Linked DNA regions of Homo sapiens. The protein of the gene in region 4 purifies or fractionates together with the protein of the main gene of each other region. This does not show direct contact. Each region holds a gene or a part of one and is shown on either strand. Other genes may lie near its edges.

Region 1 (7,023 bases), on a different chromosome or scaffold from region 4:
TACTAATGACAAACTATCTGAAAAAGATATTAAGAAATTAATCCCAGGCCAGGATTCAATGTAATTTCTATCAAATGTAATTCCTATCAAATGTAATTCCTATCAAAATTCTAATGTCATTTTTCAAGGAAATAGAAAAAAAAATCCTAAAATTTGTACAGCACAACAAAAGACCCCAAAGAGCGAAAGCAATTTTGAGCAAAAAGAACAAAGGTGGAGTACCACACTATCTGACTTCAAAATATACTACAAACCTAATCAAATGGCATGGTACTGGCATAAAAGCTAACACAAAAACCAATGGAACAGGATAGAGAGTCCAGAAATAAACTCATGCATTTACCATCATCTGATTTTCAACAAAGGCACCAAGAACACACAATGGAGAAAGGACAATCTTTCAATAAACGGTATTAGGAAAACTGAATATCCACATGTAGAAGAATGAAATTAGACCCTTATCTCACAGCATATACAAAAATCAACTCAAACTGTATTAAAGACTTAAATGTACAGTCTGAAACTGTAAAACTACTAGAAGAAAACATTGGGAAAAGAAGCTCCATGACACAGGCCTGGCAAAGATTTCTTGGACTTGACCCCAAAAGCACAGGCAACAAAAGCAAAAATAAACAAATAGGATTGTATCAAACCAAAAGGCTTCTGTATGGCAAAGGAAACAACAGAGTGAAGAGATATCCCAGAATGAGTGAAAATCTTTGCAAACCATGCATCTTATATGGAGTTAATATTCAAAATATATAAGGAATTCAAATCAATAGCAAGAAAACAAAGAACTCAATTTAAAAATGGGCAAAGGACCCGAATAGACATTGCTCAAAAGACATACAAATGGCCAACAGATATAAGAAAAAATGCTCTTCACAACTAATTACCAGGAAAATGCAAATTAAAACCACAATGGGCTATCTCCTCACACCTGTTAGAATAGCTATCATCAAAAAGATGAAAGATAACAAGTGTTGGAGAAGATGTAGAGAAAAAGGAACTCTACTGCAGTTGGTGAGAATGTAAATTAATACAGTGATTATGGAAAACAATATGGAGGTTCCTCAGAAATCTGCAAACAGAATTACCATATGATCCAGCTATCCCACTTCTGGGTATATGGCCAAAGGAAATAAAACCAGTATGCTGAAAAAATATCTACACTCCCAAATTCATGGCAGCATTATTCACAATAGCTAAGATACAGAAGCAACCTAGATGTCCCTTATCATATAAATGGATAAAGAAAATGTTTATATATACATATATATATAAATGTCAGAATACTTTTTAGCCTTAAAAAGAAAACTCGGCCAGGTGCGGAGGCTCACGCCTGTAATCCCAGCACTTTGGGAGGCCGAGGCAAGGGGATCATGAGGTCAGGAGATCAAGACCATCCTGGCTAACACGGTGAAATCCCGTCTCCACTAAAAATACAAAAACTTAGCCAGGCGTTGGTGGCGGGCGCCTGTAGTCCCAGCTACTCCGGAGGCTGAGGCAGGAGAATGGCGTGAACCTGGGAGGCGGAGCTTGCAGCGAGCCGAGATGGAGCCACTGCACTCCAGCCTGGGCAACAGAGCTAGATTCCGTCTCAAGAGAAAAAAAAAGAAGAAAACTCTGTCATTTATGACAGCATGGATGAACCTAGTGGACAGTATGCTATGTGAAATGAGCCAAGCACAAAATGACAAATGCCTTGATGATCTCACTCATATGTGAAATCTAAAAAAGTTGAACTAATTGAAGTAGAATGGTGGTTATCAGAGGCTGGGGGAGAGGGGAAGATGGGGAAAGGAAAGATGTTGATCAGACGGTACAAAATTTCAGTTAGATAGAAGAAATTAGCTTTAGTGATGTATTGCACAGAGTGGTGACTATAATAAGTAATGCATTATATATTTCGCAATTATTAAAAAATAGATTTTAAATGTTTCCACCACACAAAAAATATAAGTATGTGAGCTGATGGATTTGTTAATTAGCTTGATTTACTCATTCCACAATGTAAACATATATCAAAACATCACGTTGTACCCCACAAATTATTATAAAATTATTTGTCAATTAAAAATAAAATTTTAAAAAACAAGGGCTCAAATTAGAAAGGGGAAAAAAAAGAAGTCAAGGAGAGATGGACTAGTTGGAAAAAAAGAGAGTCACTTAGCAATACGGGCAGAAGCATTAGAAAAATAACATCAGAAGAAACAGAAATTAGGAATCCACAGTCATTGATTCTACTTTCCATTTCTACTGGCTTTCCTTGCTGGTGGCTGCTTTGATTCTATGCGTGTACTTCCCAATAAAAATGGTGCTGTTTTCATTTATGATAAATTAGTAATAAATGTGTTTTTATTTGTCTAATGTATTACTACTATCCCAAGAAATCAACCTTGACTACTCACATCCCCTACTCCCAATATTACACAGGCCACCTAGTCTCACTAGATTTCCTAAATATGTATCTCTCTAATCTCTCCCTCTTTTCTACCCCCAGATAACTGCAGAACCCTTGTAATTGGTGTTCCTGTCTTCAGTCTCCTTTCACATCCCCACCTGCTTCCAAGTCATCTATCTTCCATTCAATAATTCATTCAACAAATATTTAAGCCCCTACTAATCCTTCTGAAAATGTTAGTCTACTGTACCCAATGCAATTTTCCAACTGAAAAGGGCTGGAAACAATCTAAATGTCCATCAATAGCAGGCTCATTTTAAGTAAATTGTGGGCCTTCAATAAAATGGAAAATTAAGCAGCCATAGGAAAGAAAAAAGAAGAGGGGGATAAAAAAGGATGCTTTTGATATATTGATATGGAAAGATCTCACCATGATGAGCTACAAGAACAAAGCAAGGTGCACAAATGCTAAGTATGGTATGCTGTCATTAGCGTGAAAGTAGGTTGAGGGATACAGGTACACTATTTTTGTATTTACTTATATTTGCAGAACATAGCTCTGAGGAAATATATAAGAAATGCATGCAGTGGTTGTCTGAGGGGAAAGTTACTGGGTAAATGAGAAATTGTTCACTATATACTCTTCTATATGTTTTTAAATTTTTAAACCACGTAAATATACTACCTGTTTTAAAAAATAAAGTGTCAATCTGACCATACTACTTTCCTACTTAAAACTGTCAGGAATTCCTATCGCCTTTCAGAATAACATATATAAACATCAGAGCTCATCTCTCACACTCTCTCTTGCCCTGTCTTTCACCCGCATTTCCATAAACCACTTTGTCTCTTGGTAAATATTGTCATGGTTCAAGGATCAGCTCCTCCAGGAGGCCTTTCCTGCCTGCATATCCCTCTAGCTCATGTGCCCTCACACACACAGTGTGTGTGTGTGTGTGTGTGTGTGAGAGTGTGTGTGTGTATATATATACATATATATATATATATATTTTTTAAGAGATGGAGTCCCACTCTGTCACCCCACGCTGGAGTGCAGAGGCGTGATCACAGCTCACAGCACCCTTGATCGTCTGGTCTCAAGCAACTCTCCCACCTCAGCCTCTACGCAGCTGGCACTACAGGTGAACACCAACACACCCTGCTAATTTTTTTTTTTAGTAGACACGAGGTCTTGTTATGTTGCCCAGGCTAGTCTCCAACTTCTGAGTTCAAGTGATACTCCTGCTTCAGCCTCCCAAAGTGCTGGGCTTACAGGCATGAGCCACCGCATCCCACCCAAAGTATCTTAATTCTGTGTTTTCATCTTCCCTAGAACCTAGGCTCTTTGAGGACCAGAAATGAATCTTTTATTTCTATATCCCCACTGCCTAGCATGGTGCATGGTCCACAGCAGACACAAAAATCTTTACCAATTGAATGAGGTCATGACTGTAATGAGGAATTTATCATTTGAATTATGCATAATTATAAAAATGCTATTTAATTTATAACAGTTCTAGACATGCATAACATGTCAACATCACAGTGAAACCTGTCTAACAGATGTAGGTCAAGGACCGAACTAGGTTGTCCATTATTCTCACTATACTCTAAGTGCTGGGACACAAGATAACCCAGTCCTAAAAGGAGAAATCAACATTTTAAGCAGCTCTACAAAGAAGTAGAAAAATTGAAGACATCAGACAAAAGTTTCAAGAGCAGTCTTAAAATGATTAAGAGGCTCTAATAAGAGATTTCATAAAAGACTTAAAGAAAAAGCTTTCCTGTGGCAAATACTTCCTGTTAGGAGAACAGTTGCTCATCCCTCAGCTCAAAGGACCACAGGAAGCTGTGCCCATTGTACCTAATGAACTTTTACAATTATCTAACTTTTCTCATCTTCTTCTCCCTCAAGGTGAGTACCAACAATGCTAATGCAATCATGACTTCCATGTGAACTTCCGGCCGAGTTTTTTTTTTTTCCTTCTTTCATTAACCATCAGAGATAGCCAGTGCTGAATAAGCCAAGTTTCCATTCTGGAGACTATAGATAAAAATAGCCTGGATCACTCTGAGTGGATCATAATTTCTCATTTATACTAATGAAATAAAGTTTTCTGTCCTACAAATGTCAAATGTCATTCAAGTGAAAACCAGAGAACCAAGTGTCTCACTCTGTAGGATCCAAAGCCACATAAAAAGGACCATTTTAGTCAACTCTTCACTGAAGGTTCAAATTCAAACAATCCATATCTCCTCCAATCTGAAGGTGAGATAACCCCTTCCCTGCCACACCACAGCTTCTGCCACTGCCACTCAAGCCAGAAGCATAAGTGAAGTAAAGAATGACTCTATTATTCATTGGAATAACAGAACCATATGTGGGCTACACACTTAGGCCATGTGCAGTGGGCACTGCTATTTTGGTCCATCCGGCACCCAATCCCTCTACTTCTTGTAAAATACTGAAGTTCCTTTCCAAAACCATTTCTTAAGCTTTCTAAGTGGCCCAGGGGTACTGGATGACTCTATCCTACTTCCCAACCCCCACCAAGCCTGGCCAACCATAGCATTCTTTTGACCACGGAGATGTAATTAGGGATAGGCCCAAGACCCAATCAAAGTTCATCTTTGAACTTTTGCTGGAGCTACCAGGAAAGAACTTTTTCTCTTCTAGTTATCTTATCAGTAGGAGAAGGGACATTACCTGACAATGGAGCCGACTATGCAGAAGAGCCAAGAGATAGCCAAAGAGAAAGGCCTTGGAGATGCTGCCTGAGGCCCTGTATCCAGGTGTGTCTGGGGCCATATTTACTCTTGAACTTCCCAACTAGGGGAGCTATAAATGTCCCTTCCAGTTTTTTCCTGCTTAAGCCAGTCTTGTCTTTTTTTCACTTGCTACCGTAAGATTTTTGTCTTGTACACAAAAATAGAATCAGCTCATACGTAACTTTTTTGTGTAACTTCTCCTTTTCCTTCTTTCCTCTCCTCAACCTTAACATTAAAAGCTAAAGGCTCTTGTTCTGAGTCCCCTCTAATAAAAAATAAAATAAAATAAGCTAAAGGTTCATGAGAAAGCTGGGTGAATAAGAGAAGCATGCTCTCTGGATCTGTCCACAAACTCCTGCCTTATCTATCTATACAGGGCTTATTTATCTATACCATTCTGTCACCCTCCTGCCTCTACAGACAGACACTAATCATAGATGAAATGACATTCAAAGTTTCTTGCAGTTCTGAGCTATATGATTCCTTTAAGCCTCAGTTGCCTCATCTGTAAAGTGGGAGATGATCTCTCTCACAGGATTCTTAGGAGGATGAATACAGCAAAAGAATACTTTACAAATGTTTCTTGAAAAAGTATGTGACCTTCTCTATTCCCAAGGCAGTTTCTCAATACTGTATCCACCAAAAAAGGAAACACAGGTCATTCAAGAAATTATTACAGAATGCCTAAAATGTATAAGGCACGTGGGGGATATAGAGATTAAAACATCTAAAAATGCTTCCAATGTAGAATATCAGACAACTACAAAACTAGCACTACATTAGGGCTGGGCGCGGTGGCTCACGCCTGTAATCCCAGCACTTTGGGAGGCAGAGGCAGGTGGATCACGAAGTCAAAAGATCGAGACAATCCTGGCCAACGTGGTAAAACCCCGTCTCTACTAAAAATACAAAAATTGGCCAGGCGTGGTGGCAGGTGCCTGTAGTCCCAGCTACTTGGGAGGCTGAGGCAGGAGAATCATTTGAACCCAGTAGGCAGAGGTTGCAATGAGCCGAGATTGCACCACTGCACTCCAGCCTGGGTGACAGAGCGAGACTCCGTCTCAAAAACAAAACAAAACAAAACAAAAAAACACTAGCACCATATTGAAGAAAATATACAAGTTGTCATCAAACAACAACAAAATAAGCTATGGGAACTGAGAGGATAGAAAAACTACTTCTTTGTAGGAGGTGGAAAGGTTTCATGGAAGAGACGGCATTCGATTGTGCCTCATTGCCCAGGGAAGCATTACCAGTCAGAAACCTCCTCAGACAGGAAATCAAGACTGACTTTATCCATATGTACAGACATGCCACCTACAATCTTAGCATCCCATGATCCTAAATGCCTTTCAAATAACTCTTCTAAAAGATAAAAGCAGACTAAAACATTTTGCTTCCTTGTTACAAAATCATAACCCACGCAGAAAACTATTAGGATAATTTTCTCAATGAGAATCATATTTTTATAACCAGAGGGAATACACATTAAATTTTTAAACATCTATATTGTTTCCCAGACAATTCTAATCGCCATAACTTTCTAGTGAAACTGAAAATTTCTTGAGGGCAAAGCCCAGTGTTATTTCTCTGTGCCCCTCACCTTGCCACACACACTCATTGTATGAATACACAAAAACAAAAAAAGACTCATCTAAAAAGTGTTACATTAAAAAGTGTGAACATGTCACTCCCAGATCTTAAATCACTTATGTTTCCCAGCACACACCACGCATTTCCACAATGTGCCATGTGTTGATACTATTCTCCTTCTTGGAATGTCCTTGAATCTGGAATTCCATTCCCAGCTCCGAAAAATATTTCCTCCAAGGCCTAGCTCAAATGTGGCC
Region 2 (7,082 bases), on a different chromosome or scaffold from region 4:
TTCTCAGAATAATATTTTTAAATGTATAAAATAAAATACATAACAAAGGAAACAAATTATAATGAAGTAGTTATCAAAAAATTTTTAAAATATGCCTCTTTATTAACAAGCAAAATTAAATAAGATCTAACAGCTTTTTAAATAATTACTATGATTTCAAAGTAGCAAAAAGTATGGACAATATTCTGAAATATCAGCAACTATAATGTGATATGAAAATATTTCTGATTTTGATTGATGACAAATCCACAGACACTTCTAAGACTACTGTGGATGTGTTGCCCACATTCATAGGCCAAGGAAACGTTGTGTTTCAGTTAGAGCTTAGTGAAAATAAAGTTCACAGAATCTCTGAATTCTATTCAAGGACCCTTTGGAGGCCTGTAAACCCCAGGTGAAGCTCTGAAAGCCAAAAAAGAGAAGTGTTTCTGTAAAGTATATTTCACCAGATTACCTGGCAGCAACCAGAAAAGACAATTTAAGTTTCACTATTTACAGAACTTTATCATACAGACAAAGCTTTCTAAATTTCAGAACAACTGTTTTTAAAAAGAAATACTAGTCCGGGTGCGGTGGCTCAAGCCTGTAATCCTAGCACTTTGGGAGGCCAAGGCGGGTGATCTCCTGGGGTCCAGGAGTTGGAGTCCAGCCTGACGAACATGGCAAAATCCCGTCTCTACTAAAAATATAAAAATTAGTGGGGCGTGGTGGCGCGCGCCTGTAACCCCAGCTTACTCAGGAGGCTGAGGCAGAAGAATTGCTTGAACCCAGGAGACGGAGGTTGCAGTGAGCCGAGATCGCGCTACTGCACTCCAGCCCGGGCAACTTAGCAGATTCCATCAAGACAGACACACAAAAAGAGGCCAGGCGCGGTGGCTCACGCCTGTAATCCCAGCACTTTGGGAGGCCGAGGCGGACGGATCACAAGATCAGGAGATCGAGACCATCCTGGCTAACACGGTGAAACCCCGTCTCTACTAAAAATACAAAAATTAGCCAGGCGTGGTGGCGGGCGCCTGCAGTCCCAGCTACTCGGGAGGCTGAGGCAGGAGAATGGCGTGAACCCAGGAGGCGGAGTTTGCAGTAAACTGAGATCTGGCCACTGCACTCCAGCCTGAGCGACAGAGCGAGACTCTGTCTCAAAAAAAAAAAAAAAAAAAAAAGAAAGAAAATAAGACAGACAGAAAGACAGATAGTAGATGGAAAGAAAGACAGAAAGGAAAGAAAGACAGGAAGGAAGGAAAGGAAGGAAGGAAGGAAGGAGAAAAGAAAAGAAAAAGAAAGAAAACAGTCGTTTTGAAAAGAAAAAAAAATAACTGCCTATCTCCTATGATTCAAAAATGTTCACGGACTCTTGGCTACAAGAGATCAGTAACACTTTCAAAGAAGCCGTCCCTGACCAAAGGGAACACACACATACTTCATCCACCCACTGGAAACTGTATTATTCTTTGTCTACTCCACTAGATTTAAACATGAGGGTGAGGACTTATTCACCACTCTACCTCCAGCACTAAAAGAAGGCCTGACACACAGTGGACCCTTGACAAATATTAATATATATCAGATAAATGGATTAAAATATGTCACTTTAAAGTGTTTGCAAATCGAATTCCTGGAATCGGGACATCTACTGGTTGAGGCTTAACATCGATTTAGGATTAAATTTACTCCCTTACATTTATATATCATTTTACAAAATGCTTCTGCCCACGTTACCTCATTCAATCCTTCCTTCTGTAGTAAAGAAACTGGAAGATATATTTAGTAAACAATAAGGATTTTATAATTGGCTTAGAAGTTAGATAAAAGGGGCCTTTTTAAAAATCCATCCAAGGGTCATAAACCGATAAGCCAAAATAAAACGAATTTGTCTAGAAGTCAGTCATTATAACAGGATCTAGCCTCGTGGTCTGACTTCCACAGATTTGAGGAAGAGAAAAAAAGTTTATTTTCCAGACTCTCTTGGCTGGGGCGCCATTCTTTCACAGCTTCAGATAAACAGAAAGAAAAGGTAAACAACATGCGCCACTCTTAGGAAACTACCTCCCGGTCAAGTTGGGAAAGCCAGCAAAGGACTGCTGAAACACCCAAGTACTTCCGAACCAACTCCTGCGGGACTTCTCCCCATCTCTCCCGCCGCTGTCCTGCGGGCCCCGGGGCTTGCCTGACGCCGGGAAGTATTGTGAACCTTGTTTATGTCCCAGTGTCAGGGCCGCACAGTGATAGTAACATCTCGGGTATCGCGCGGCTTGCGTCCGGGACGGCCAGCTGGGTGCCCCGAGTCCTGGGGGACCCTAGTAGGGACAGATCCTCAGCCGAGCCCCTCCTGGAGCCCCCAACGGGCCCGAGGGGGATCCCGGCCAGGCTGCGGAAGAAGAGCCGCAGCCATGGCAGGCGGCGGTCCCCGGCAGGGCTGAGTGGGATCTGGAGACATTTTTTAATAACAGGAGCATTTTGTGCCTTTCAGGGTTTCTACAAAGTGGCCGCATTCCGGCCCCAAAGTCAGCAGGCCTGAAAGCGTGCAGGCAGGCGCGTGGGAAGGAGTTTACTTCCAATTTGAGCAACGGCTGCTCCAGAGGTTGGCAGAGCCCCATTCCACGGGGAAAGTGGTGGGTGCCGGGCGAAGCGCCGCGCATTCCCTCACACTCCCCGGGTGCAGCAGGCCTCGTGCCCTCCCCGGGGCCCCCAACCATTGGCCAGTCCACCCCCCCCCCGACAGGCTGAGGGCTCAGGAGTGGCACTATTTCGTTACCTCTCTGCGCGGAGGCGAGTGAGGAGGTGATGAGCCGGACGGCCGCCGCGCCGCAAGTACAAGCACCGCAGCTGGGCATCTCCGCGAGGCCTAGGCCGGGGCTTCGCCCCCTGAGGACCTCCGGGTCACAGCGGCGTGAATCCTGCCCGCAAGGCGCGCTGACTCGGTTCCGAACCCTTTCGCGGGCCCTAGACCCCGTGGAGAGTTCACCTGCCCGGCAGCCAGGCCTTCACGCTTCTCTGCCCCACAGCCGTCTATTCACCAGAGTAGACACCCAACCCCCCCCTCCCTTCCCCTCCTTCTCCTTCTACCCCCACCCCCAGCCTACTGGGCCCGGGGAGCTTGCGCGCGCCTGCGCCCTAGGCCCGGGGAGGGGGCGGAGGGCGTGGGCACGCGCCGTGTTTGCGAGCTGGTGAAGCTACGTGAGGCGAAGGCGAGGGGGTGGTGCCCTGGGCGCCAATGAGTTCCCTACGGCAAGCGTCTAGCCCCAACTGGGGCGACTACAGGTCCCGACGCTCAAGGTTGCCAAAAGCCCTTTTATCCTAAAGTTGAAAGGTTTTGCGATAGACGCGGAGAGATGCATGCCGGGACTTGTAGTCCCGAGTCGTCATAGTCGAGCTCTTCCGGTCACTTTTAGTGGGCGGCAGGGAAGGTCAAGGTGAGGCTGGTGGCTTAACCCTCCAGGGGGAAGTCTCTAAAGTGCCTTGGTAGGCGCTGGATGCTTCAGATTCACTAAATTTCTTCCCCCGGAATTCCACATCCTGTGTTCCTTATCTTCTCATTCTCCTTAGTTTCATCACTTGTAACATGGAGTTGGTATTGTCAGTTAGTTCCCTGAGCAGCAATTGTTAGTTGGTAACAGCTCCGTCTCCTTGTTCTTTCAGGCCTCGTGGTGATAAAGCTTCTAGCTGTTGCTAGTCCGTGGGTGCTTTAAAGTCTTGAGGGTTTTCTTTTCTTTCTTTCTTTTTTTTAATTTAGTAAAGATGAGGTCTCCCTATGTTGCCCAGGCTGGTCTCAAACTCCTGGGCTCAAGTGATCCTCTCGCCTCGCCCTCCCAAAGTGCTGGGATTACAGGCGTGAGCCACCGCACCCGGCCGTGATTAAGGATGGCACTGCATAGATAACCTCTGGTCAGGTTCCTATCAGGCCATCCTCTCAAGTTATGAATTCAAAAGCACAGAGCCGGCTGGGCGTGGTGGCTCACACCTGTAATCCCAGCACTTTGGGAGGCCGAGGCAGGTGGATCACGAGGTCAGGAGTTTGCGACCAGCCTGACCCACATGGTGAAACCCCATCTCTACTAAAAATACAAAAATTAGGTAGGTGTGGTGGCGTACTCCTGTAATCCCAGCTACTCAGGAGGCTGAGGTGGGAGAATTGCTTGAACCCAGGAGGCGAAGGTTGCAGTGAGCCGATATCGTGCCATTGCACTCCAGCCTGGGCGACAGAGCGAGACTCCGTCTCAAAAAAAAAAAAAAAAAACCCAGAGCCATCTGAGATTATCCCTGTGAGAAAATGGATCCTTCACCAGGAAAGTGATGGCAAATACTTGTGGTCACATCAGCCCTTCCACATCACACCTACTTTCAGCTGTTTTCTGACAGATTAATGACGCTTTAAAAAGAAAGTCAAGTGCAGTTTTCCAGCTCAAATAGTTTACACTGGAGGAGTTAACTCCTTGAGTTATTTACTTTTTGCGAACTACATAGCTGAAGGCACATAACTTTTTTTTTGAGACAGAGTCTCCATCTGTCACCCAGGCTGAAGTGCAGTGGCACCATCTCAGCTCACTGCAACCTCTGCCTCCTGGGTTCAAGTGATTCTCCTGCCTCAGCCTCCTGAGTAGCTGGGATTACAGGCATGCGTCACCATGCCCGGTTAATTTTTGTATTTTTAGTAGAGGCAGAGTTTCACTATGTTGGCCGTGTTAGTTTCAAACCCCTGACCTCAAGTGATCCGCCTGCCTCAGCCTCCCAAAGTGCTGGGATTACAGGCATGAGCCATTGCACCCAGTCAGGCACATAACTTTTTATGTCTTCATTTTATGTAAAACTTTTTCTTTTGTCTTTTTTTTTTTTTTTTTTTTGAGATGGAGTCTCACTCTGTGGCCAGGCTGGAGCGCAGTGGTGCGATCCTGGCTCACTGTAACCTCTGGCTCCTCGGTTCAAGCGATTCTCCTACCTCAGCCTCCTGAGTAGCTGGGACTACAGGCGCACACCACCACGCCCAGCTAGTTTTTGTATTTTTAGTAGAGACGGGGTTTCACCATGTTGGCCAGGATGGTTTTGATCTATTGACCTCATGATCCGCCTGCCTTGGCCTCCCAAAGTGTTGGGATTACAGGTGTGAGCCACCATGCAGGCCCTCTTTTTCTTTTATACTTGATTTTACCTCCCAGCATTATGAGTTGCTATAAGAAATATTTTAATAAATTAGAGTCCATGAGTCTTAACTCACTCAATATTAACCCTGATTTTTTTAGATGAGGAAACAGGCCTATTGAAAAGGCAGATACTTGACCAGGGTCACATAACAAGTGAAAAACAGAGAATAGAGCTGGAGTCTTCTGGCTTTAAAACTGTATTTCTCAAGCTTTTCTTTTTTAACCCAAGACTCTTTTCGATAAACATAAAAATCTCACTTCTCGGCCAGGCGCAGTTTCTCACGCCTGTAATCCCAGCACTTTGGGAGGCCAAGGCAGGTGGATCACCTGAGGTCAGGAGTTCCAGACTGGCCTGGCCAACATGGTGAAACCCCGTCTCTACTAAAAATACAAAAATTAGCCGGGTGTGGTGGCGCACGCCTGTGATCCCAGCTACTCGGGAGGCTAAGGCAGGAGAATCGCTTGAACCTGGGAGGCAGAGGTTGCAGTGAGCTGAGATCGTGACAATGCACTCCAGCCTGGGTGACAAAGCAAGTCTCCATCTCAACAACAACAACAAAAAATCTCGCTTCTCCTCTCCTCCACCAGAAATTCTGGCACATCTTCTCAGAGAGTCATCATTCTTTTGGGAATCTTTGTATCCTCTGAATAAAGACTTTTTTTTTCATGGCCAAACCCTGCTCCTTCATATCAGCAGACATTGATTATCCCTGGAAGGATATAAATATAAATATTGAGGAACTCAGTATTTTAAAAGATAAGGACCTGCATCTGTAGGTGGTGCGAACTCAAGATAATATTAACACATCGTATTGAACTTTATAACTTACAAAGGGTTTTCACATCCACTTTCTCATTTGATTATTACAACAACCAAATGATATATTGTTATTATCAGCATTCCAGTTTTGAAGCTGAGAAAATCAAGACACAGAGAGTTTAAGTGACTTGCCCAAGGTCACAGCAGAACCCAGACTTAAATCCAAATCACCATATGGGTTTCCATTACTTCTCTATATCTTATTCCAAAAGCTGATGAGATTTTAGGGGTCTGCAGAATCTCTACCCCCTACCCAGGAACATCTCACATCAAGGAATAAAAATCTGCCCTCCTATTAAGGAAGTGACCCACCATCTTTCCTTTACTTAAGAATTACTTTGGTTGTAGCCGGGCGCGGTGGCTCAGGCCTGTAGTCCCAGCACTTTGGAGGCTGAGGCTGGCGGATCACGAGGTCAGGAGTTCAAGACCAGCCTGGCCAACCTGGTGAACCCCGTCTCTAAAAATACAAAAATTAGCTGGGCACAGTGATGTGTGCCTGTAGTCCCAGCTACTCAGGAAGCTGAGGCAGGAAAATCGCTTGAACCTGGGAAGCGGAGGTTGCAGTGAGCCGAGATCATGCCACTGCACTCCAGCCTGGGCAGCAAAGTGAGACTCTGGCTCAAAAAAAAAAAAAAAAAAAGAATTACTTTGGTTGTTTGTTAAAATACATTAGGCCCCTCTCCTAAAGATTTTGACAAAATAGTCTGGAGGAGGGCTCAGGAATCTGTTTTTATTGCTGGATGCTAGAATCAGGAGATGCTAAGATTTATTTGCAGAAATGATATGTTTCCACTGTGCTGATAGAAGTCTGGACCTTTTTTTCTCAAGGTCTCTTTTAGGCTCCTTCCAACTGCTACTACTTTCTTCCTCAGGGAGTCACTGCCCAACCTTGGTATTGTAGGGTGACCAAGAGGACTACAGCGAGGCGCTCATCATTTTCCTGGGCCTGCCCTTGGGGGCTGGAGGTAACCTTAGATAGCATGAGATCCCCCTTGTCCTCAATTAGACTGCCTCTTGTTCCTCATCCTGATGTTCAGGGAGATGGTCAGCAGATGGTGCTAACTTACCACCCTTCCCTCTGAATCCTTTGGGGGCATTCTTAAAATTAATCCAGTGGAACTTTC
Region 3 (7,709 bases), on a different chromosome or scaffold from region 4:
ATTATAACACATTTAGTTATAAATCTAATTGGCTTTTATTTGAGATTCATGAATCGGGGCAGCTTCCCTTCTACAACATGGAGTAAGAGCTTCCATTGGCCAACGGCAGACAGCGGCTTTTGTGAGATGGGAACAAGGAAACGGAACCACGGGAAAAACGTCAATTGGTCACCATCGTGTTACCTCCTTTGGTAAAGGTTAAAGCAGAGGGGACTTCCTTATCACACTGACTTAAGTAGACTGGAATCTCCTGTTTTCAGGAAAAACTTGTCTGTTTGGGATCTATCTGCTTCCTTAAGGGTTCGGTTTGATGATATGTGGCGTTTAGCATGAGTGACTCCATCTTGCTTTGCTGTGGTCTGTTGGAGCCTAGTGTAGGAGCTCAGTCCAAAATAATGGGTTCCCATAATTTTTGTTTAACAAACACTTGTGCAATTGCAATAATAACACAAGGGAAAATGGGCAGGGCAGGCATCCCAGGTAGTGTCAATGTATTGTTGAGGAGTGAGTGTGTGTTCACAGACAGAGGCGTGCAGGCAGGCAGGACTTTCGAGCAGGTACCTGGGTGCAGCCTCCAGTGGGTATAAAGGTGAGTCGGGGGGCTGGAGCCAGAGGCCAGCCATAGCCACAGCTTTCTTTCATTCATTAAGCCTTTACTGAGTACCAAGGAGAAAGGGAGTGACAGTTGAAAAGTTATTCTTACTCTTTCTTCCTTTTTTTTTTTTTTTTTTTTTTGAGACAGGGTCTCAATCTGTTGCCCGGGATGGAGGTGCAGTGGCACAATCATGGTTCACTGCAGCCTCGACTCCCGGGGCTCAAGTGATCCTCCTACCTCAGCCTCCTGAGTAGCTGGGAGTACAGGCGCATGCCACCACCTGGCTAATTTTTTGTTTGTTTGTTTGAGATGGACTCTTGCTGTGTTGTCAGGCTGGAGTGCAGTGGCATGATCGTGGCTCACTGCAACCTCTGCCTCTCAGGTTCAAGCGATTCCCCTGCCTCAGTCTCCCAAGTAGCTGGGACTACAGGTGCATGCCACCATGCCCGGCTAATTTTTTGTATTTCAGTAGAGACTGGGTTTCACCATGTTTGGCCAGAATGGTCTCGATCTCCTGACCTCAAGTGATCTGCCCACCTCTACCTCCCAAAGTGCTAGGATTACAGGCATGAGCCACCGTGCCTGGCCCAGGCTAATTTTTCATATTTTTTTGGAGAGATGGGGTTTCTCCATGTTGCCCAGGCTGGTTTCCAAGCCTGCTCAAGCAATCAGTCCTCCTGCCTTGGCCTCCCAAAGTGATGAGATTACAGGCGTGAGCCACTGCGTCCAGCCTTGAAAGTTTTACATTGTGCTTTTTGTTTTTCCTCCAGCTGGTCTGAGACATGTATCTGAATGAAGGGACAGTGAGATTTATTGCAGAAGGAATGCAGTGACAACGAACAAGGTAAGAAGATTTTGAATGACAAAAAAAGATACCAGCCTTGCAAGCAGGCTGCTGTTTTGAGAGGTTTGTCTAAATTCCAGGATTTATCCCACTCATCTTAGTTAGATTTAGCTACTGTAAAAACACCAACAGAGTATTGGCTTAAATAAGACAGAAGGGTATTTCTGTCATTTAAGAGTCTGGGCTGGCCGGGAGCAGTGGCTCATGCCTGCAATTCCAGCATTTTGGGAGGCTGAGGTGGGCAGATCAGCCTGATGACAGAGCAAGACTCCATCTCAAAGAAAAAAAAAAAAAATTAGCCTGGCGTGGTGGTGGGCGCCTGTACTCCCAGCTATTCAGGAGACTGAGGTGGGAGTTCGAGACTAGCCTGGCCAACATGGTGAAACCCTGTCTCCACCGAAAATACAAAAAATTACCAGGCGTGATGGTGGGCGCCTGTAATCCCAGCTACTTGGGAGGCTGAGGCAGGAGAATCGCTTGAACCCGGGAGCTGGAGGTTGCAGTTAGTGTGCGGAGATCACGCCACTGAGCTCCAGCCTGGATGAGAGTGAGACTCTGTCTCAAAAAAAAAAAAAGTCCAGACATAAGCAGTCCAGGGCAACACTAGTCTTGCTGTTGGGGACCTAGGCCCCTCCCAGCCCTTCCACAAGTGGCTTTCATCTCATGGTCTCAGATGGTTGCTGCAGTTCCTGCCATCACATCCTTGCACCCAGCTGGCGACCAAGAGAAGCCAGGAAGGAAAGGTGGAGGGCAATGCCCCCTTTGTTTTGCAGGCACAACCAGAATTGCACTTCTCACTTTGTTTCTTGTTTCATAAACCACAGCTTACTTGTAAGTAAGTACACGTGGAAGGTCTAAGTTCTGCCTCTGGGGAATGCTGTCTTCATCTGGGCTACCATGTAGTCAGCAAAAACGTGGGGCTTCCGTTCCTAAAGGACAGGCTCGGAAGGAATATTGGGGACAATTAGTTCCTGCCACACTCTTCAGCATATCAGCAACCAAGCCCGGGGACCAGGTGGTGTCCACTCACCTGATTCTCATTTCCGGCTCCCCCGGAGGCCATGAAGGAGGAGGCAGAGGAAGGCAGAGCAAGCAGGTGTGACTCTAGGTCCCCACTCCGGGCGCTCTGGGCATGGCGAGGGGGGGTGCAGAGGCAAGTGCATGCACTGCGTCACGACCTGCAACAGGAAGCTGATGGGACAGCATGGTCAGGCAGGGAGACCCGAGGCTCAGCTGTCCCAAACCAACCAGTACTGGTGTGGGCAGAGCCCAGGACAGCCAAGAGCCTGCAGGGAGGTGTCAGAGGGGCCCCTGTAACAGGGCAGGGTGGCTCTGCCGAGGCTGTAGTTCAGATTCACAGGTAGGGATGCCAGATTTAGCAAATGCATAGACAGCATCCTAGTTCAGTTTGAATTTTAGATAAATATGCAATAACTTTTTAATATAAGCTTGTCCTATGTCCCAGGCATCATTTATTTGGAATTCAAATTTAACTGATTGCTCTGTATGTTATCTGAAAACACCAGAAGGTTAGGGTTTTAGAGGGCCCACTCAGGCCTCAAACGGATCCAGAGCCCCAGTATGAGCCAATGTGAGCTCAAGGCAGACAGGGCCCCTCCAGGCTTGGCCTGACATCCAGAGAGACCACGAGCCACAGGGGCTAACAAGAGGCCACAAGGCCTAAGTCCTTTCTGTCCTCAGGGGCGTGCAAGGCTGCCTTCACTTTCTTGCTCTTCTAGACCAGGTGCCTACTCTTTGGAAAGGAGAGAAGAAAAGGGAGGTTTGGGCATATTTTCTCCCAGAGACTGAGCATTACCCAAAGGCTGTTCAAAGTATCCCTTAGAACTGTGTTCTAACCTGGGTAGGATGAAAGTTTATCTATTTTTATTGCTAAGCTGCAGGTGAGGGCTTGGGAACACCTGGTTACATGCACCCCAGATCAAGACTGTCCACGTCCGGTGCACCCCTGAACACAGCAGGAGGGAACTTGGGGATCCACTGCCCTCGCTCACTGTAAGCTTCCCAGGACTGAAGCCCCAAAGAGGAGCCCTCTGCCTTCTCTGTCCTCCCCATGGGTCAGCGTGTCCTGCTTCTGAGTGGCCCGTCCTTCCTGCCTAACTGGCTGGCCTGCACCATGGCCCATATTCAACAACCTTAGTCATAGTTCCCACCATTGGCGTTTATGGAAGCTTGGAGCCTCATAAAGTTCAAAGTCTGCAACAATAATAAAGGCCCAGTCAACTTGGCTTGGGCGGCAGCTGCAGCCCAGCACTGGAAGCTCCTAGCTGTGGAGGGGCGTTGGGGCCTGGAGGGAGGAGAGCCTTGGTTTGCCCTGTGGGGCCCAGCCTTGAGTTCTGGCTTCTCAGGGCTCTGTTCTATCATGTTTCCTGTGAACTCCTTTTGTGCCTAAGACGCTGGGCAGTGCCACTCTTGCAGAGGTGCCACTCCAGGCCCTGCACGCTTAGGGGTAGAGCAACTACTACTGTTGGGCACAGGCGTGGGGCTGTAGAAAGAAATCCGTGTTTCACTGGAAAACTATGCATCCTACATAGGACACCAGCTTCCACATGGCCCGATACTAACCTACTAACCTTTCATCTTTTTTTTTTTTTTTTTGAGACGGAGTCTCCCTCTGTCGCCCAGGCTGGAGTGCAATGGCACCGTCTCGGCTCATTGCAGCCTCTGCCTCCCGGGTTCCAGCGATTCTCCAGTCTCAGCCTCTCAGGTAGCTGGGATTACAGGCATGCACCACCACGCCCGGCTAATTTTTGTATTTTAAGTAGAGACGGGGTTTCACCATGTTGGCCAGGGTAGTCTCGAACTCCTGACTTCAGGTGATCCGCCCGCCTCGGCCTCCCAAAGTGCTGGAATCGCAGACGTGAGTCACCGCGCCCGGTCTGAAAATTATCTTTTAATAGGGGTTAGCTGCATGAGTTAAAATCTCATTGCCACCATTTGCTGACTTTGTGCCCTCTGGGAGATTGCTTAATCTCTCTGGGATAAACCTCGGTTTGCTTGACAAAGGAAGCTGGTGAGGCTAAAGAGAGAACTCTAAGATTGGGGCGTTCCGAAGCCTTCTAGAGCCTTCTAGCACCCTGGACTCATAGCCAATGATGGGCAACAACAAGAACGACGACGAACCCTGGGCTCGGAACTCGCCCAGGCCCCGCCCCTCACAGCCCCGCCCCGTCCTCGGCCCCGCCCCCGGCCTGTCGCCTCAACAAAGTCCCCGCCGCGCGGCCGCTGGCCGGGAGTCAGCTCGGAGTCCCGTCCCAGCGCGGCGTCAGCGCTGCGCACTTCCCATTGGCCGAGCGCGGCGCGGGGGCGGGCCCGGGCCTGCGATTGCCTCTCGGCGTGCGCGGACAGTGTCATGGAGGCCGCGGCGGTGACGGTCACCCGGTCGGCTACACGGCGGCGGCGGCGGCAGCTGCAGGGGCTGGCGGCCCCGGAGGCGGGGACGCAGGAGGAGCAGGAGGATCAGGAGCCGCGGCCGCGGCGGCGGCGGCCGGGAAGGAGGTGGGGCTGCGGGGCCCGCGTGAACCCCGATCCGCGGGGCTGAGAGTCCGTGGCCCCGGGGCCCGAGGTTTCCCGGCACGGGCGCGCCGAGGGGCGGGGGGCCGGCGCCTGTGTCCGCTCCGTGCACAGTAAGGGACAGAGGGTGGCAGCGCCCCTCCGCCCCGGTCCGCCCCGCCGTCCTCGCGCCACTGCCGGGCAGCGGCCTCCGGCCCCCGTGCGTGACCCCTGCCTATCTCAGAAATACGGGTGCAAACCCGAGTGGCCGCGGGGCCCAGCGGGAATCCCGACGCCCCGGCCAGACCCCTGCTTCCCACGTCGCTGGTCTATGCGGAAGATCCCGGCGGCGGTGCTCATGCCTGGCTCAGTGGATGCCGGCTGGTGGAAGGGGTGGCCTTCTGTAGGGGTGACACTAGAACTGAGTCTTTGGGGAGGAGGAAGCCTTCAGTAGGTGGAGAATAGGGAGTAGGGTATCCAACTGGCGGGGAACAGAAAGGGCCAAAGCACAGAGACAGAAAGGGACGAACATGCCCCTCTGGGCTGGGCTTCCTTCCTTTGGGGGGCACTTGCCCACCCGGTAAACTCCCCCTCAGTAGGTTGCAGGGGGAGAAGTTAGGAGCACAGACATGGCTTCCGGAAACAGCAGCCGTAGCTTTGTTTCTAAACCCAAAGCAGTGAGACTGCTGAGCATTTCAGACCTCATGAAGATGGGATGAAGGCTGGCTGCTGGGAAAGATATTTTTGGACAGGAGGAATGTGGAGATGGCTCTTTCCCTCCTAGTGGAGGAATGACAGGTGACAAAGGTGACCTGGTGTGGGATTGTTCTGAGAAGGTCTGGGAGGGGGTGGCTGAAGTATAATAAGGACATCAACGAGGAAGGGGGCTTTGGAAAAGGAAGGTGGAGAGGAACAACTGCGGCATCTCTGCTTGAATCCGTCCCCGACCCCTGCAGTTCTCAGGGTCTCCCAATGTCATTCTGGAGGCCCTGGGTCAGTGTTTGGTGATGGCAGATGCTACAGAGGACTCTTTGCAACAGGCCTCTGAATGGCAGTGGAGTGATGGCAGATGACAACTCAGTGAACAAAGAAGTGGCCTTGGGCGTTGGTAGATTTAGGGAATCTCAACGTTGGTGCCATGGCCTCTAAATAGCCACTGCGGTGTCTTCTTACTGCTCCTAAAATAATAATGATTTTTTAGGCCAGGCATGGTGGCTTATGCCTGTAATCTCAGCACTTGGGAGGCTGAGGCGTGTGATCACCTGAGTTCGGGAGTTTGAGACCAGCCTGGCCAACATGGTGAAACTCAGTCTCTACTAAAAGTACAAAATTAGTCAGGCGTGGTGGCAGATGCCTGTAATCCCAGCTACTTGGGAGGCTGAGGCAGGAGACTCACTTGAACCCAGGAACTGGAGGTTGCAGTGAGCTGAGATTTCACCACCTTACTCCAGCCTGGGCGACAGAGCGAGACTCTGTCTCAATTAATCAATCAATTTTTAAAAGAAAGTGGTTTGAGATGTATTTAGGAGCTTTCCATGTTAATGTACCGAAGGAACGAAGGAACTCTTTCTCCCTGTAACATACATCCATGAACAGCGCGGAAGGCACTTAGGGAAGTGTGGCCTATAGAGGAAGCCTGGTCTCTGCTCTCTTAGGACCTGAAACTTTCTGGTGCTTTGGGTATTTGGATATTGCCCCTTGGCCATAGAAAATCCTGGGGACCCTGTGAAGTATTTATGTCTGGTCTTTGTGGTATTGGGGTGGCTGCTTTAGAGGGTAAGGTTTATTCTATTTATTTATTTTTTTGAGATGGAGTCTCGTTCTGTTGCCCAAGTTGGAGTGTAGTGGCACAGTCCCGGCTCACTGCAACCTTCGCCTCCCAGGTTCAAGTGATTCTCCCTGCCTCAGCCTCCCAAGGTGCTGGGATTACAGGCGTGTGCCACCATGCCCAGCTAATTTTTGTATTAGTAGAGATGGGGTTTTGCCATGTTGGCCAGGCTGGTCTTTAACTCCTGACCTCAGGTGATTCGCCTGCCTTGGCTTCCCAAAGTGTTGGGATTACAGGCGTGAACCACTGCGTCTGGCCTAGGGTAAGGTTTATTCTTAGGAGTAATCATTGGTACGTGTGTCCATGTGGAAGCCAAGCCCTGGTTGCTAATATAGGTAAAACCTTAGGATTATCACAGGGCACTTCCTTGCTTTATACAATGTTTCTATAGTTAATATTAAACAACATAAGGCAGAGAATATCTCTCTGTGTTTAGATGAAACTGGTCCATTTGCTTCTAAGTGTTCTTACCTATTTATGTTTTTATTTATAAATGTACAACTCCCTCTTTGCTTAGCATCAAAGATGAAGAAGAAGAGACAGTCTTTCGAGAGGTGGTCAGTTTTTCCCCGGACCCCCTGCCAGGTGAGGAGACAGAGGCTCTGAATACCGATCCACCTTCACACCTGGGGCTTTGGGGCAGGTCAGCCCCTGCCCCCTCTCATGTTCCTTCTCTGTTATTGTTAAAATGTTTCGATTAATCCTATAATAGTTTCCATTAATTGCTCAATGTTTCTGTCCTCGGACCAGTTAGATATTATGACAAGGACACCACCAAACCAATCAGCTTTTACTTGTCTTCGCTGGAGGAGCTCTTGGCGTGGAAGCCCCGCTTGGAGGATGGCTTTAATGTGGCCCTGGAGCCCCTGGCGTGTCGCCAGCCCCCTCTGAGCAGCCAGAGGCCCCGGACTTTGTTGTGTCATGACATGATG
Region 4 (7,261 bases):
TAGCCTGGTGACAGAGCAAGACTCTGTCTCAAAAAAAAAAAAAAAAATTAATAGGATACAAAACCAAAGTGATAAAGATGAATGAGAAAGTAAAGAGAAATTATCCTGACATTAAGAAGTAAAGAGTAACCAAAAAAAGTTTAAATCATAAGAAAAACAGTAATTCATTAAGAGGAAGAGAATAATCATTTCACACTCTATACGTATATGAAAACATCATGTTGTACACCTTAAATACACATAATTTTGTTGTCAATTATATCTCAATAAAGCTGGAAAGAGGAAGAGATAAACTGCAAATGAAAGTAATAAATAGGCTATTAAATTGACAACTTGTGAATTATATAAACTCATTGAAAAATATTCAAATTTCTTTCGATTTGATCTCACACTAGCATTGAGGAAGATAACATAAAACTCACGCCTATAATCCCAGCACTTTGGGAGGCTGAGGCGGGTAGATCACCTGAAGTCAGGAGTTCGAGACCAGCCTGGCCAACATGGCGAAACCCCATCTCTACTAAAAATACAAAAATTAGCCGGGCATAGTGACGCATGCCTGTAATCCCAGCTACTCAGGAGGCTGAGGCAGGAGAATTGCTTGAACCTGGGACGTGGAGGTTGCAGTGAGCCAAGAGCGCAGACAGATCAAGACTCCATCTCAAAAAATAAAATAATACAAAATAAAATGCAGAATGTCACGAAATGCCTATGTTAAGAGGATATTTGATAGAGTTTTCTGAAATTTGACAAAAATACTAAACATATATATAAAACCAATAATGAACTGAGGTGAAAAATAATTTTTCTGAATTATCACCAATAAAAGGCAAATACTGATCAAACACACTAGAGAAAAAACTAAATTATCTTTCTATTTTCTTTAGAAAATATTATAAACTAACATCATATGAAGAGATGATTAAAGAGCACATAGCCATATAATGTAAGGGGAAAAAAGTATGAAGAAGTATGCCTGGCAGTTACTTAATAAAAATATGTTACGTTAAATTTTTGCATTATTTGTAATATTTTTCAACTTTTAAAAATTTATAACGTTATATTTTGTTTTAGTCTAAATACATATTCAGTTGTGTACCTACTTTTGTATCTAAAATTGTTATTCTTTTTCTTAAGGAGCCTCCACTCGCCAAATGCACATAAACTTCAGGCCCCACAAAATTTGAATCTGTCCCTGTTATCCACTTTTCTCTCTACCTAATTGGTCTACCCTCACCCATGCTTGTCCTCTTCCAATCTGTTCTTCATGCCACAGTCTAAAGGATCTTCTAAAAGTTCATGTATGATTATATTTATCTTACATTCTTTCAGTAATTTCCAATTAGCCTTACTATAAAAACCCAAGTCCTTAAAATAGGATCTGGGTCCTCACCACCTCTCTCCCTCTGCTCTAACCACACTGGCTTCTTTTAGTTATTGCAATGCACCAGCTCAGAACCTTTGCATATGCTGTACTCTGTGCTTAGGAGACATTCCACCACCCCAATACTCCATTAACAAATTATCTCCTACTCAAACTTCAGATTTCACTCAAAGATCACTTCCTCAGGGCACCTTAGACTAAATCAGCCTCCCACCACCTTAAATGCTCATTGCACCCTTTACTTTTCCTTCATAGCATGTCTATTTGTAATCATATACAAGATACAAGATTAGATTGTCCATCTCTCTGCCATTAGACTGCAAATTCCATGAACGAGGGACAATGTCTCTTCAGCACTAGTGTAGCAGTGTTACCGGAAAGGGGTCCTGATCCAGACATCAAGAAAGGGTTCTTGGATCTCGAGCAAGGAAGAATTCAGGACAAGACCATAGAGTAAAGTGAAAGAAAGTTTATTAAGAAAGTAGAGGAATAAAAGAATGGCTACTCCATAGGCAGAGCAGCCCGAGGGCTACTCGTTGCCCATTTTTATGGTTATTTCTTGATGATATGCTAAACAAGGGATGGATTATTCATGCCTCCCCTTTTTAGACCAGAGAGGGTACCTTCCTGACATTCCCATGGCGTTTGTAAACTGTCATGGCGCTGGGTGGGAATTTAGCAGTGAGGACGACCAGAGGTCACTTTCATCACCATCTTGGTTTTGGTGGGTTTTAGTCGGCTTCTTTACTGCTACCTGTTTCATCAGTAAGGTCTTTATGACATGCATCTTGTATCTTGTATCTTTATGACCTCCTATCTCATCCTGTGACTTAGAATGCATAACCATCTGGGAATGCAGCATAGCAGGCCTCAGGCTTATTTTACTCAGCCCCTTTTCAAGATGGAGTTGCTCTGGTTCAATCGCCTCTGACAGCAGCATCCTGAACAAAGTGGGCAACTAATTACACAATTTCTGGCCTCAAATAGTTTATAATCTAACCTTGAAAAAAATAGAAAAGAAACAATTTTACAATTTGGGGCTTCGATACAGATGAAATAGGTTATTTTTTTGTGCAAGAAAGTCTTCCTGGAAGTCTTGAAACCTGAATACAGAAGGATTAGTTATTCTAACCAGCTTGAAAAATTGGCCTAGGCCAAGGCTGTAACCAAGTATTCTGGTTGTCTAGGAACTGCTCTGACCACACTTCCGGCATAATTGTTTCTTGCAGAAAAACTACTTCAGTTTTTTTAAAGCTTCTTTTGCCTTCTGTAGGCTTACTTAAAAAAAAAAAGTATTAAGATCCTTTTGTGGTTCATAAGCCTGATGATTGGGTTTTCATGCTATTGTGTGAGTTACCACCCCTACCTCAAACCTTGTTAGGACTCCGCGCATTACCCCTCTGTGTGAAAAAAACAAAGTAATAAAGGTAATTTTTTTTTTTTTGCATAAGCCCTATCCTTGTACACATCAGGTTTCAACGTGTTTCCATCATTATTTTTACCTTATAGTATAGTGTTTTCACGAGTTTTTTTTTTTAATACTTTAAGTTCTGGAATAGTTTTCACGAGTTTTAAGAGACTCTTCTTGGCAAACAGTTCAACTCAGAGAAAATACTTTTACCAGCAAGGAGGTATACCTTGTTATATCGGTCTGGGGATGTGACTTGACAGTTCACCTTGCCAGGAATATCTCTGTGATTTTTTGTTTGTTTGTTTGTTTTGAGACAAGAGTCTCGCTCTGTCCCTGAGGCCAGAGTGCAGTGGCTCACTGCAAGCTCCGCCTCCCGGGTTCAAGCGATTCTCATGCCTCAGCCTCCCGAGTAGCTGGGATTACAGGCGCCTGCCACCACGCCCAGCTAATTTTTGTATTTTAGTAGAGACGGGGTTTCCCCACGTTGGCCAGGCTGGTCTAAAACTCCTGACCTCAGGTGATCCACCCGCCTCCCAAAGTGCTGGGATTACAAGCGTGAGCCACCGCGCCCACGGTGGGCGGTGAGAGGAGAGGGGCAAAGTCTAATTATTCCAGAGCGACCACAGAAATATCTGGAGCTAGTTTCAAGGGCTATTCCCCGCTAAAGATTACTTAATAATGCAGTTGGATGACCACGTTTCAAGATTTTTGTTCGATCTGCACATCCTCCAACATGTTCCAAGAGGGTGTTTAAAAAGTCACCAAGGACCATTAGGATAACCATTAGGATAAAGCTGTCAGGACATCCCTAAATTGTTTGAAACTACGATGTCTGCTGAGGAAAGAAGAACATAATTAGGCTTTGGAGTTAAGAGAGCTAACCAGTTCCGAATTTAATGTCTGAGCCAAATGAGAATGTTAAGATTTATCTCACAAGTTGTAGAGAAAATTAAAAACGATTAAACATCCGGGCCTTGAATAAGTGCCCGTCGACTTGGGGATTAAATATGGTAGAGTCCACTTTCCTCACCAGCTGATGATAATTTCTGTTATGTACAGTCCTCCTTTCTCTTCCTTTATCGGTTGGTTAGTATTTGCCAACTCTTTCCTGCTTTTCATCTTCTCTTCCCCCCATTTAAATCTTTCCACCAAGCGCTCAGAAACACGTACGTCCTACCAGAACGCAACCCGAGCCTGCGCGAGAGGTACGTACAGGTCTTGACCTTTTCCCGGTTCTCCGCCCTTTTCCCGGTTCTCCGCCCTTTTCTCCGGTTCTCCGCCCTTTTCTCCGGTTCTCCGCCCTTTTCTCCGGTTCTCCGCCCCTTTTCCGCCACTGCCTGATGCCTCCCTCCAGGCTGCGCCAGTCCGCAGCCCCGCCCACGCCGGCCGTCACGTGACCGCGCAGCGTGCTCCGCCCCCTGTCCCTGGCTCACGTGATCGCGCCTAGGGAGAAAACGTCTGACTCCAGCCACCGGCCTTCAAGGCACGGCTTTTTATTCCTTCGGCTGGTCGGCCTCTCGCCCTTCAGCTACCTGTGCGTCCCTCCGTCCCGTCCCGTCCCGGGGTCACCCCGGAGCCTGTCCGCTATGCGGCTCCTGCCTCTAGCCCCAGGTCGGCTCCGGCGGGGCAGCCCCCGCCACCTGCCCTCCTGCAGCCCAGCGCTGCTACTGCTGGTGCTGGGCGGCTGCCTGGGGGTCTTCGGGGTGGCTGCGGGAACCCGGAGGCCCAACGTGGTGCTGCTCCTCACGGACGACCAGGACGAAGTGCTCGGCGGCATGGTAACTCTTCTGTTTCTGCCCCGCCCCTCTATCTCTTGGGCTGACTACCCGGTTTGTTGCTCTCTTTCCCGGTCCCCACCACCCTCCTCCCCGAACTGGCTGTCTTATCCTTGGGTAGGTTTGGTTTTCCCACCTGAGGCCCTTTATGCCGGTGTAAGGGACTGCAATACTCTTTTCCTTTCTGGATTGAGGCACATGCGTACAGCACACAGAGCTTCTAGTCTGGACCGTACTGCTGTGGAGTTTACGTTAATATCTCAAGATAAACATGTGGAGACCAGTGGAGGATGGGTTGAACCAATGAGGATCAGGTGCTGTCTAAGAGCACTCAAGGCCTGATTGTTTTTCTTTTGGATTAGAGGATCACAGACAAGTCCAGTCCCCTTTATGAGGGACCTAGACCACCTCCACGTTTGTGCCTGTATACAATGTCTGTATCTGATGTCAATAAAAATAAGCCTGGGCCGGGCGCGGTGTGTCACTCATGTAATCCCAGCACTTTGGGAGGCCGAGGCGGGCGGATCAGAAGGTCAAGAGATCGAGACCATCCTGGCCAACATGGTGAAACCCCGTCTCTACTAGAAATACAATAATTCTAGCTGGGCGTGGTGGCGCGCAGCTGTAGTCCCAGCTACTTGGGAGGCTGAGGAAGGAGAATCGCTTGAACCCGGGAGGCAGCAGTTGCAGTGAGCCGAGATCGCGCCACTGCATTCCAGCCTGGCGACAGAGCGAGACTCCGTCTCCAAAAAAAAAAAAAAAAAAAAAAAAAAAAAAAGGCCTGAAGTGAACTAATCTGGTAGGCCGACCGTCGAACTATTGAGGGTGTGTGTTGCCTCACAAGAATCAAGAAAATTCAATTAGTGTGATTGAACACCTGACTGTTGCATTAGAGACTGTCAGTGTTTCATTTTCTATCTAATGGGTGTTGTCACAAGACTTCATTTTTTTTCCAGAGTAAATTTTGCTTGTGTATTGCAGAATTATGGAATGTGTGACCTTTGGAAACATCCACTCCAACCCCTTCCCCATGGAGGCCCAGAAAGCAACTTGCCCAAGACATGAGTAGTTGAGGCAGAGTCCTCTGACCCTGGGTTCAGCATTCCTCTCTTCGCTTTAAAACCAAATGCTTTATTGCTTTCTTCGTTTCAGTTCTCTTTTTGCTTTCAGCTGAATGCTGAGACTATGAAATACTCCAGGCAAGACGTTCCTAACTTTTCTTGTGTAGTTACACACCCTAGCTCAGTGTCCTTCAAACCTCTGGTCCCAACCCTTGAGTGAGTTATGAAATCAGTTTAGTGAGTAACTACCAACATTTTTTATTTCCTCTGGAATAGAATAGAATAGAAAAGGTCCATGTGTGTGAGTGTGTGTGTTACACTTGATAAAGGTAATCATTATCTATCTCTCTTTCTTCCCGAGTTGTAAAATATATTTCTTAGGTTGATGCTCAAGAGCTTGAGAGTCTTTTATAGCTGATGTTTTAAGAGGCTTGCATTTTGACTACACATTTCTTCCTGCCATATATGCTTCATTGTCTGTTAGTTTCTACCAAGCCATGTTGACATTGGTCTTAATTTAATTTTCCTCCTACACTTTAGGTTCACTACTCTTCCAACTACTGCACTTACTTGTCTGCTCACAAAATTCCTTTTTTATTAAAAAAAAGAAAATGTGTCCTTGAAGAGTGTTTTGTCCAGAAAAAGCAAGCCTTCTCTAGCAGTGACTTAAGTACTCAGTTAAAAGGTCAGGCTTTTTTAGGTGTTGAAAACAAAATTGATTACTTAAATATAAGGTATTCAGAGTTGTTTCTTCAATTCTTATAAACCACAGCTGTAGTCTGTGTGTATTTGAGGTCTCTTTAGTATGTTAATCCAATTTGCTTCGTTAAGCCAGTAGCAGATTTTTTGAGTCAGGGTCTTGCTCTGTCATCCAGGCTGGAGTGCAGTGGTACAATCAAGGCTCATTGCAGCCTTGAACTCCTAGTCTCAAGCAGTCCTCCTGCCTCAGTCTCCCTAGTAGCTGGAACTACAGGCACATGTCACTACGTCCAGCTAATTTTTAAATATTTTGTAAAGACAGGATTTCTCCATGTTGCCCAAGTCGGTCTTGAACTCCTGGACTCAAGTAACTCTTGAACTCCTGAACTCTTGAACTCCTGGACCTCAGCCTCCCAAAGTGCTGGGATTACAGGCATGAGCCACTGTCTCGGCCCAGATTCTTTTTTTTAATAAGTGTTTCTACTGGAGAGAGGTACCAAAATTGAGTGGAGGGCATAAGTCAAACTTAATGTTCCAAACTCAAGAATTCTGGCTTCTCTTCTAGGCTTTTTCAGAATATTCTACCACTAATTGTCAAACAGGACTCCAAGGGGAAGAGCTAGGACAAGAGCATTTGAGAACTTACTTGGAGCCGAGCAGAGTATGAGGATTTTTATACTTGTGCTTCAGTCATCACAGGAGTCCTCTGCTGTACATAGTATCCTTATCTTAAAAGGAAACTAAAACTGGAAGGTGGTTAAGTGACATGACTAAGTTCATATAGCTAATATTGGACAAAGCCTGGGTATCTTATGACCTCAGATCACCATGCTTTTTCTCCTATTCTAGAATACTGTGATAATAATCAGATTTCATTCCACATACCCACACCAGCATAATCACACCATAGGTCAGAGAGTCTGCAGGTGAC

What was found.
Region 1: the proteins of GNS (region 4) and SUMF1 purify together in Homo sapiens (affinity purification with mass spectrometry; 2 studies listed by BioGRID and IntAct, with this or other methods). This does not show direct contact.
Region 2: the proteins of GNS (region 4) and CLPX purify together in Homo sapiens (affinity purification with mass spectrometry; 2 studies listed by BioGRID and IntAct, with this or other methods). This does not show direct contact.
Region 3: the proteins of GNS (region 4) and ENGASE purify together in Homo sapiens (affinity purification with mass spectrometry; 2 studies listed by BioGRID and IntAct, with this or other methods). This does not show direct contact.

Annotation. Positions count from the first base shown.
Region 1 is NC_000003.12:4,457,254-4,464,276, forward strand, and holds part of SUMF1 (formylglycine-generating enzyme isoform 1 precursor), read right to left. Parts: intron 1-7,023.
Region 2 is NC_000015.10:65,182,320-65,189,401, forward strand, and holds the start of CLPX (ATP-dependent clpX-like chaperone, mitochondrial precursor), read right to left. Parts: upstream 3,024-7,082; 5' UTR 2,835-3,023; coding exon 2,756-2,834; intron 1-2,755. UniProt on the Homo sapiens protein: ATP-dependent chaperone that functions as an unfoldase.
Region 3 is NC_000017.11:79,070,136-79,077,844, forward strand, and holds the start of ENGASE (cytosolic endo-beta-N-acetylglucosaminidase), read left to right. Parts: upstream 1-4,688; 5' UTR 4,689-4,809; coding exon 4,810-4,955; intron 4,956-7,294; coding exon 7,295-7,362; intron 7,363-7,527; coding exon 7,528-7,709. UniProt on the Homo sapiens protein: Endoglycosidase that releases N-glycans from glycoproteins by cleaving the beta-1,4-glycosidic bond in the N,N'-diacetylchitobiose core. Involved in the processing of free oligosaccharides in the cytosol.
Region 4 is NC_000012.12:64,756,397-64,763,657, reverse strand, and holds the start of GNS (N-acetylglucosamine-6-sulfatase precursor), read left to right. Parts: upstream 1-4,251; 5' UTR 4,252-4,381; coding exon 4,382-4,573; intron 4,574-7,261. UniProt on the Homo sapiens protein: Hydrolyzes 6-sulfate groups in N-acetyl-d-glucosaminide units of heparin sulfate and keratan sulfate.